Regions from separate parts of the Homo sapiens genome. Here region 2 is linked to region 1. The links come from fine-mapping of genetic effects on gene expression. Tissue or cell type: aorta. Region 1 holds a variant in brackets; the other region holds the start of a gene. All regions are shown on one strand. Distances are from middle to middle.

Region 1 (5,153 bases):
TATCTAGAGCTCATAAGGATCTACTGAAGCAACACTAAGGCTACTATGAGTAGGACACCTGTTTATTGTTTACTAAGTCAGTGGTCCTCACCTGGGACAGACTGGGCCTGTCGTTATTACATTATTTAAAGCAGGTGAGCTACCACACCATCCCAGCTATCAGAATTTTATGATTCATGAATTCCAACAATCACAATAAAAATAAAGCTGCATTATTTCCAACCATCCCCCATGCTCCTCACACAGGGCACCAAGTTTTCACATAGCCAGAGATGGTGTGGATGTTGGCATATTTTGCTACTTGCTGTACATGCCCAGTTTCTTAATGAATGCGGTCACTGGGAAACCAACCCCACTCCTTTTTCTAATGACAAAGTACAAGAATCAGTAAAAAAAATAAGTAAAGCTTAGGGATTGGGGGAAAAACTGTTTATTATCTAGCTCTTGTCTATCTCGTATGTTTATGGTTCAAGGATGTGCTATTTATTAACTGCCTCCCTCAAGTTATAAATCTTACACTCACACAAAGGCATAGGGGTACATTAGCTTCAAACTATCTCCTATATCCATTGATCTAAACAGACATGGGGAAAATCAAATTAACTCAAACCTCTTATCTAAATCAAAGTCTGCCAAGTCTGAAGGGGGAAAAAAATTGTTTTGGGGGGATGTGAAAAAAAAAATAGCAAGAAAGATGCTGTCTTTCTAGAAGCAACCCAAACCCAAATCCCTGGACAATTCTCTGGCTATCTTTTCCTTAGGTAGTGGGAGTTAAGGAGACAGTCCTGACAGGAGCCTGCATAACACAAATCAAGAAATTATCCTCACAGCCAAGGCTGGTGACACCATTCCTTAACCTGGCGGAGGGGAGCTTTTCAAGGCTTATGAACCAGGATCATATTATTCCATGTCTCTGAAGCTTGGGTCGGTCCCTCTGTCCTTTTCTCGTGCTAGTTTCTCTGTGATTACGCATTAAAATGTAGAGCCAGTCATCTCTGGCTCCTAGAGACTCCCAGGTTGATGAATGCACACCCGTCCTGGAATTTCGCCTGAAGACCAGTAACGGGACTCGGTGTGCCCGGGCCTGTTCGGGGCACGCAGCGCAAGACCCGGCTCCGCAGGGTGGGAAGATGCCCGAGCCCAGGGAGACCCGACCGAGACGCCCCCTCTCCTGCCCAGCGCGCCCCCTTCCGTCCCCAGCAAGAGAGCAAAGGTCCCAAGCCTCAATCCGGGCTCAAGCGACCAAACCCCTTTCTAGAGTCTGGACCACTCACCATTCGGGACAGAGCTGCCCCCAAAAGTTAAAATGAGACAAACGGGCGGGAAGCCCCCAGCCCCGGGGCGGGGCCGGCCTAGAGCCCTGCGCTCCAGCTTTGGGAGCTCACCCAGGCCCGGGGAGGGCCAGCCTGGCTGCTCACGGGACCCTCCCTTGTTGGCCCGGCCGTGGCCGGGAACCCACGCGTGGCCGGTGCGCGCTGCCAGTGCTGCAGCTGAGGTTCGGGTTCGGCCCGCGCCCGGCGTGAACAAAGCGGCTGCCAAGGCCTGGGACTGAGGGGACTGAGCCGCCGGCTCCACGCCGCCCCCAGGCCCAGAAGAAACACCGACTGCGGGCCGGGCACAGCACCCGGCCGGGGAAAGGACGCCCCGAGTTACGCGCAAACTTCCTTTGAATGGCGCCCAGGTGGGGTGAACCATCCCAAAGAAAGGAGGATGGGCTTGGGAAGGGAGGGCTCGGCTCAGGTCGGGGGGACCCCTCCGTCCCCACCCTCTCCCCGCCAGCTGCCAGGGAATGATGTCATCGCCTCTCCCGGCCCTCACCCCTGTCTCTGCCAGCCCCGCTTTCTCTGCTCTCCCACCCCAGGTCTGACCCCTCAGGGAGCGTGGCCAAGATTAAGAGAGGGGCGGGGGGCCGTGGGGGTGCGAGGTGTTCAGAGAAGAGTTAGGAGAGCGGGAGGGATCGTCCGTGGCAGCAGAGCATCTTCTCCCGTCTGGGCCCTGCCAAGATGATGCAGACATTCCTATCTGGAGCTCCGCTTTCAGGGATCTGTGCTCCCGCGGGCCGGGGGAGGGAGAGGGCTCGGGAAGGAACCGGCCGGGTGGAAAGTGCGCTGACGAGTCTCTTGTCCTCCCCGCCCCCACCCTGTCCCGAGCCCTGCACTCCCGACTCGCGGCCCACCCTGCACGCTGCACTCCCTTTAATTCACACATTTCTTCCACCAGCCTCAGGGCCGATTCCCCGCGCCTACCTCGGCTCTCCGGGCCGCCTCCCGCTGCTGCCCGATTCCGCGTCCGGAGCGAGCGGGAGCTGCAGCGGGC[T/GCTGCAGCGGGCT]CCGCGGACCGGGCGCGGGGCAGGTATCGGGCTTTATACCTCGCCCGCCGGGTGACTCAGGAGGCTCCGAGCCTTCACCCGCCGCCCTTCAAAATAAGAGTCCGGCGGCGCGGCGGGCGGGAGAGAGGAGGCGTGGCTCGCAGCTCTGGGACGCGGCCCCCAGGTTAGGGAGGCTTCCCCGCACCCACTCGTAACCTTGTCCCGCCCTTTGCATCTTTCTGGTCGCAGGCCCCTTCCTGGGGCAGCCAAGCTACAAATCGGGCTTTCCTGGAACGATCGAGAAGTGCTAATAACGGGAAAGAATTTAAGTTTTTTAGGCCCATAGATATGTTGTCGGCTTGTTAGGATGATTCTCCTCCGGTGTTTGTGTTTTTTTCCTTTACAGACTAAAGAGTGTCCAATAAACGCGACTCCAGGGCAGCGTTTTAGGGGAAAGCAATAAAAACTCACGGTAGAATGGAAGCTGCCCTGAAGGAATGGAACTGCGAGACTGGGGCTGGGACTGGGGCTGTGGGGAGGGAAAGCACATACAGTGTAAAAACGATTGTGTGACATTAAATCGAAAAGCACAAATCATCATGCAGTATATTTCTTTTCTAAGAAGAGGAAGGATAATTTTTAGATTTCCATTAATTAGTTTACTGGGTTCTGTGTAATAAAAAGCTAAATTCAGGAGCCCTTAGGGTGAGAAGAGTAAAGCATTTGATCTAGCAACATCTGAGGAACCCGGTCCCTATCCTATCCTGTGATCCTCTTAGCTCATAAACTACTGGAGGCCCTGAGTCACTTATTTTAACGCTCATCTACACAGGAACTTCTGTAGAAGTGTTTTCAAAGAGGAACTGGACTCATTCGTTCCAGAATTAATATTCTATGCAAAATTTGTGACAGATTGTGGGCTTAGCCCTAAATCCAGATCACCAACTTTTCTTTCACCAGATCAGCTAAGGACACCCCTGGCTCTGTGTATAATCCTCCAGTAGCTGGGTTGGCACACCATGTCACAACAATTTCTGTCTTCTTTCTCCTTCCAGAGTGTGCTCCTTGGCCACTGGGACCAAATCTTTCACACACAATAAGCTGTTAACAAAATGAATGCATGAATGAATGAATGAATGAATGGTAATATCTACCATTTACTGAACTTACTGTTGTGCCAGGCTGTTTCGGTAACGTGGTCACTCAGTAACTGCCAATAAATGCTAACTAGTTTTGAATAGCCAGTAGACCACTTGTTTAAAGGGTTTAGTACTGTAACTGTATCCTGCCGTCATTACTGATATCTAACACTAGCATTGCTAGGTTCACTGTCTTCAGCCAGGTAGTCTATTCCTCTCTCGGAAATATCTTTATTGACTTTTAAATGAATAACGATGTCTGTAAAATATTAAAAACCAAATATTGTTCTTTAAACAATAAACCAAAATTGAATGTCCCTGTGATTTTACTCCCAGAGATAAATTGTTAGCTGCCTAAAATATAGTCCTCCAGGCTTTTGGATGTGTATTTAAACACACACTTAAAATAGCTTAGATAATTGTTTCCATACAATTTTGTAACTTTTTTTTTTTTGAGACAGGGTCTCACTCTGTTGCCCAGGCTGAAGTGCAGTGGTGCAGTCATGGCTTACTGCAGTTTTGACCTCCCAGGCTCAAGTGATCCTCCCACCTCAGCCTCCTGAGTAACTAGGGCTACAGGCACGTGCCATCATACCCAGCTAATTTAAAACATTTTTTTTTGTTCAAGACAACGTCTCGCTATGTTGTCCAGGCTGGTCTCAAACTCCTGATCTCAAGTGATCCTCCCACCTCGGCCTCCCAGGCGTGACCACCGCACTCAGCCTATAACTTTTTTTTTTTTTTTTTTTTTTGAGACAAAGTCTCACTCTGTCACCCAAGCTGGAGTGCAGTGGCGTGATCTCGGCTCACTGCAACCTCCACCTCCTGGGTTCAAGCGATTCTCCTGCCTCAGCCTCCCAAGTAGCTGGGATAACAGGCGCCTGCCACCACACCCAGCTAATTTTTGTAGTTTTTGTAGAGATGGGGTTTCACCATGTTGGCCAAGCTGCTCTTGAACTCCTGACCTCAAGTGATCCGCCTGCCTTGGCCTCCCAAAGTGCTGGGATTATAGGCATGACCCACTGCACCTGGCCTGTAACCTATTTTTTTTAACCTAATAATATACTGACCATAGTCATCTTTCTGGGGATAATACAAAGCATTATCATCTCTTGCATTTTTGAGAGGGTGATAGACCAACAATTCATTGTCCTGGAACACAAACTTTAAAGAGTGAAAATCACTTTGCCTATTCTAATATTTCTAACAGTATTTCCCTGTTTAGCTTCACCTTTCTTTGAATTCTCAGCTTGTTTACGCCCATGTCAAAGGGCCCTTAGGGCTGCAGCAATGACATCACGTGGCCTGCAGCAGGGTTTTCTTGCAGGCTGTGATGGGACACTGACTAAAGAGTGCCACCAGATGAGAGTTAGGACGTGTGATCTGTGCCATTAACTGTGGGACTCTGAAGCTTCCTTATTTCCACAATAATGGGATTAATCTGATGGATTTTTAAGTTACGCTTCTTAAATTTTATGATTTTATGATTTAGGAGTCCTTTCACAACATAAAGAGCAGAAAGAATAAAACAGATGTCTGATATTACCACCTGTAGTGTTTACCGGCCATGGAAGGGACTGTGGGGTAGAATAGACTTGGAGAGTTGATTGGCTGTGAGAAGACATACGCACTTCCTTTACTCTGAGGAGACAGCAAAAGAAGGATGATCCATTAGATCTGTCATCTCTGTGTGTCTGCCTTATTCCAACTACAGGTGCC
Region 2 (5,153 bases), 330 kb after region 1:
GATTCTTTAGAGAGTCCAGGTGGAATAGCTAAATTCCCATAGTCATTTAAAAATGTATACATAGATAGGAATAAATATATGAAAATGGTTGGAATAACATACACCAAACAATCAACACTGACCTCTGTGGGGGGATTTAGGCAGGGGTAGGAGTTGAAAGGTGGGACATGCAGGGGGATCTTTTGTTGCTTATTTTGTAATTTTTGAAAAAAAGTTATAAGTGATTTTTAATTTTAGGTTTAGCAGTTTTATTTTCATATTTAAGCAATTACTAAAAAAGTAATGCAAACCATTGATACAAATATTAGATATTGAAATATCTTTTAATAAAACCTAAACTATGAAAACCAAAGTTAGAAAAGCTTTAACACTTAATTTTCATGCTTCAGAATCACAGGCAACCCCCCTAGACTAAATCAATAAAGTCCCTCCCTTCCTCCCTCCCCCCTCCCTCCCTTCTGCCTCCCTTCCCCCTTCTTCCATGTCTCCCTCCCTTCCTCCCTCCCATCCTCCCTCCCATCCTCCCTCCCATCCTCCCTCCCTTCCTCCCTCCCTTCTCCCTTCCTTCTTCCCCGTCTCCCTTTCTTTCTTCCTTCCTTTTTTTTTTTTTTTTTTTTTTTTTTGCTACAAAGGGTCCTTTAGGGCAAAAGTCAAACACGAAAATTTTATGAAATTTTATGTTTGATGCAGAAAATGCACTACAATTTTATAATTTATTTCTTAATAAATACACATGGATTATTTTCCTTTCTAATTATTAAATTGTCAATGCAGGCAGATATATTTATCCTACAGTTTTAAATATCTCTTTAAACAGCTTATTTAATCTCAATTTCAAGGACATAATCTAATAGCTCATTTAATGCAGAAACAGCCAAATAAGATACTTTACAGAGTTTTTGAAGTTATCCCATGTCCTGTTCATCTTATCAACTTTATTCACCATACTGAGTCCATTGCAAATATTTAGATTTTACTTCTGAATTATCCATTTCCATTACCATTATCCAATTCAGGGCTTTATTCTTCTCACTTAAATTCAAAACCTATTTACCAAATTTGCTTCTATATTCTCTAATATGATTTAACAGTTAGAAATTTTAGTCGAAGATACTTTGTTCAATCTTTGTTTTCTTTGCTGTAATTTCACCGGGACACAGTCATTAACTCTAGATGGCCTGAATTTCTAACTGGAGCTCAGTAATTGCAATACCCTTTGACAGCCTCCACACACATATTGTTTAAGAAGTGGAGCTCTTGTCTGGGCCTTGCAGATTCCACTTGGTATCTCTTAAAGAACTTGTCATATTTATTTTTAAACCTGAATAATGATTGCCCTCTACATTTTTAAAAAATGAGGTAAGGAGGTCAAAGTGATTGTACTTGTCCAGTGCAATCCAGATCCTCATTCTATTGTGAAATATGCTATAAGGCCAGTTTTAATATTCAGCTCTAGCAATAACAGAGAAACCCAGAGGAAGAGCTGACACAGAACCCCTGGGATACAGACCCTAATCCATACCAGATTCTAGGATGCCAGAGGACTAATTTATATTCTAGGAATGTGTAATCATGTATTTACAGGGCAGTTAGTGGCCAGATAAACCTCATCGGCCTTTTCTGCTGTTAGCAATAACTTGTCAAAGAGACTTTGATTTTAAAAATCTGAAAAAAAAATCTGAATAATTGAGGTGAGTATTCAAGTTCTTTCTGTGAGAAAAAACATTGGAAGGCACATTTATCATGAAATGAGGATTTAATTTCTGCATATATGTGATTGAATAGATTTGTAATAGTTTTATATTGCCAAGAAATGGCTTTATATGTCACCACATTATTCATACTAGAAGGCAATTAGTATTTTTAGCAAATGTTAATAAGTAATATGAGCCTGAAATCATTTTATGTCAACCTCCTATATTGGATTCAAGACAATTTCATGTGCAACTTAAAACAACATGATAAAAATTATTCTGTGATGTTTAAACTTGACTGGACTCGAGATTGCACTGTGGTTTCCCTTAGTAAGCGTTATCTTATTAAAAATATGTATGTAAATTTTATGCATGAATATAATTTAAAATACCTGCTGTTACTATCCCAACTCATTTAATTATGTCCAGTGAGTTACTTTTAGAATCTTTTGAAAGTGTAATTAACAATTTATAATGTTACTGAAATCTAAGGTCTATCACTTTAAGCCATCATCACTTATCTAGCTTAAATATGGGTGAGGGTCTAGAAAGCTGCGTTTTCCTTTTCTGTGAAACATAACACATACACGATCTTGACAAAAGCTGGCTCCATAAATACATTTAATCCTTTTGGAATTGATAGCACCATCTTAGCATGCTTAAGCTTATAACAGAAAGTGTAATTCTCTGACAGCAAAGGCAGAGATGAAGTGGGCAGGCAAATCTTACGTATTATCTGTTTTTGGCAAAACCGTAACATTCTCATTACGTTTCCTCTCCAAGCAAAAGAATAATTAAGGTATCTTGTAAATAGTATCATATCTTCAGAAAAACTTTTGTATTTTTAGTTTTTTTTTTTTTAAGTCCTTAAAATGTTGCCCTACTAGTTAGTATATTAAGATACACCTTACAGACCTTTTCAATGCTTGGTCAGTTTGAAGACTCCAGAGAGGTGATGAATTTCAGATGAGCATTTCTTCTTTTCTGGGAGAATGGAGGTTGTGGCCTTGCCTATTCATTAGAGACTGCCTGGTCCGTGGTCACTTTGAGGCAACTGTGGCCTCAGACTCTCATCTGTCCTCTTACTCCACTCAGCTATATTTGGTAACTGAGCTCATGTTTCAGCAGACTGCCACGATCAGGAATTCCAGCAGCGGGCTGGGAAGCACCCCCAGGACCGAGGGCTGGGTTCTTAGAAATAAAGCCACTTAACATAGAAGGAACTATATTTATGGATCTGATAAACGTAGGATTTAAACACATTCTTCTATACTTTGGACTTGTAGCTGGAAATCACCACCTGGACCTTTAACATGTTCTTAATCAATTTAAAGTACAGTATGTGACTCCAAGTAGAAAAAGTGATAATCCAAATGGAAGCTCTTCTTACTCTGATCTTCTGTTCTGTGCATTTAAATTTTGGTCATGTGCTAGATTACCCTAAAATAGTAAATTCAGTAACTGAAAATTTAGCCACCTGTCAAATTGAGTGGAAAGTCCCATTGTTCTCTTATTTCATATTGCTAATTAAAAATTGATATATGACTATGGTATGTATTAAAGGCCTTGTCTATAATAGTATTAAATAAGTATGAACACACAGGGACTGGATCTTATCCACATTGCAACATTGAGTTCTTAGCTCAATGCCTAGGACATCATGAGCATCTCTTAAATATTTGTCAAAGAAATAAATGAATGTTGAATGAATAATATTCAGGAAAAGTATCAACCCTCTTACAGTTGCAAAAAATGTTTCACAATCATTTAATATTTTGATCTTTCAAATGACAAATAGATATAGCAAGAGTTTAATATTTTGATCTTTTAAATAACAAACATAGATAGCAAGAAGAGAAAGCTTTTCTGTTTAAAGGTCAGGTAGCAGAATCAAATATAAGGGGGGCAAAAAGAGCAACACAAAAGCTCCCAGTTAACTTGGAAATGGGGTGCTGAGTCTTCCTTTGTCTGGGTAAGACCATCACATTTGATTCAGTTTAATATCTAAATATTTTTTCTTTTCTGATGTTAGAAAATTTGTGAAGGTCTGCTATTGTATTTTCTTTATAGGCCAAACTGGTCCTTTAGAAATGGTCCTTTCTGTGAGTGGATACTTCTGTGGGTCATTTCATCTATTATATTAATTAAGAAGTGATTTTAAAATTTATACTTACGGCTGGGCGTGGTGGCTTATGCCTGTAATTGCAGTACTTTGGGAGGCCGAGGTGGGTGGATCATGAGGTCAGGAGATTGAGACCATCCTGGCTAACACAGTGAAACCCCCTCTCTACTAAAAATACAAAAAATTAGCTGGGCGTGGTGGCGGGTGCCTGTAGTCCCAGCCACTTGGGAGGCTGAGGCAGGAGAATGGTGTGAACCCGGGAGGCGGAGCTTGCAGTGAGCCGAGATCCCATCACTGCACTCCAGCCTGGGTGACAGAGCGAGACTCCTTCTTAAAAAAAATAAAAATAAAAATAAAAAAATAAAATTTATACTTACAAGGAAATATAACTCTGATTGATTGTCTTAGTTTGTGTCATTATAACAAAATGCCACAGACTGGGTAATTTACAAAGAACAGAAATTGATTTCTCATAGTTCTGGAGGCTGGGAAGTCTAAGATCAAGGTGCCAGCAGGTTTGTTGTCTGGTGAAGTTCCTGTCTCTGCTTCCACAGTGATGCCTTGAGCACTGTGTCCTCACATGGCAGAAGGTGGAAGGGCAAGAGGGGGTCAAACTTCCTCCATCAAGCCCTAAGGGCATCAAATCCCATTCATGAGGAGTCCTCCTGAATCACCTTCTAAACGTTACACCTCCTGATACTGTTGCATAGGGGATTAGGAATCAACAAAAATTTTGAAGGGGACAAAAACCTTCAAACCATAGCATTGCTTAAACACATATTTATATCTGCTTTTTCCTAAAACCACAAGATAATAGTAAAAACTGAAAAGGGCAGAAATTGGGAGGGAAGACAATAGAAGATATCAGAAATGAACAAAATTGTTGGAAAGAGATAAATATAAGTATGCATGTAACTAAATTACAAAGCTTAAATGCCTGCAGGAGGAGATACAGAAAAGAAGCAAGTGATTCACCCCATGGAGTCTCAGAAAGGCTTGGGAATAGGAAGCAGTGAACCCATCTTTAGAAATAATTTTAATTGGCAACTCTGATTTTTGCCTCTGCCTTCTGGTGAACTGTGAGTCTCATGGTGAATTCCAGAGGCAATCATGTTGGACTACTGGCCAGACGAGGCCTCTCCCACATTTCTTTGGATTGCTTGGTTCCTAAATCCTGGTATAACACCAGTGAAGTGATGAAGCCATAAGAAGAAAAAAGAAAAAAAAACAGCTTGTGGTCCTGAGAGAGGCTTCAAAGATGGATATGACTTTACTCAAAAGGACACAGAAATGTGACCTTTTTGTGTGTGTATTGCAAATAGTGCAGCAAACCAAGC

Which allele goes with the higher level. Positions count from the first base shown, and alleles are read on the strand shown. Sizes are in standard deviations (SD) of each study's normalised expression.
For the expression in aorta of the gene that starts at base 2,752 in region 2, allele GCTGCAGCGGGCT in region 1 goes with a higher level than allele T (moderate effect, 0.55 SD a copy in GTEx).

What was found. PIP is the estimated chance that this variant, and not a neighbour inherited with it, causes the effect.
Region 2: it holds the start of PALLD, and the variant in region 1 is fine-mapped to the expression of PALLD in aorta (GTEx, PIP 0.95).

The regions. Positions count from the first base shown.
Region 1 is chr4:168,829,265-168,834,417 of GRCh38, reverse strand. The region is part of intron 10 of PALLD (palladin, cytoskeletal associated protein); the gene reads right to left. LOC124900809 (a long non-coding RNA gene) reads left to right here. Exons shown (of 2, transcript XR_007058361.1): 1 at 1-1,681; 2 at 2,702-2,892. Among named protein-coding and RNA genes, the nearest start is that of CBR4, 180 kb to the left of the region's middle. RefSeq lists an enhancer at 1,875-2,735. The variant T/GCTGCAGCGGGCT (reference allele first, on the strand shown) is at 2,317.
Region 2 is chr4:168,494,651-168,499,803 of GRCh38, reverse strand. PALLD (palladin, cytoskeletal associated protein) reads right to left here and starts at 2,752. Exons shown (of 22, transcript NM_001166108.2): 1 at 2,610-2,752. All of the region lies in intron 1 of LOC107986198 (a long non-coding RNA gene), which reads left to right.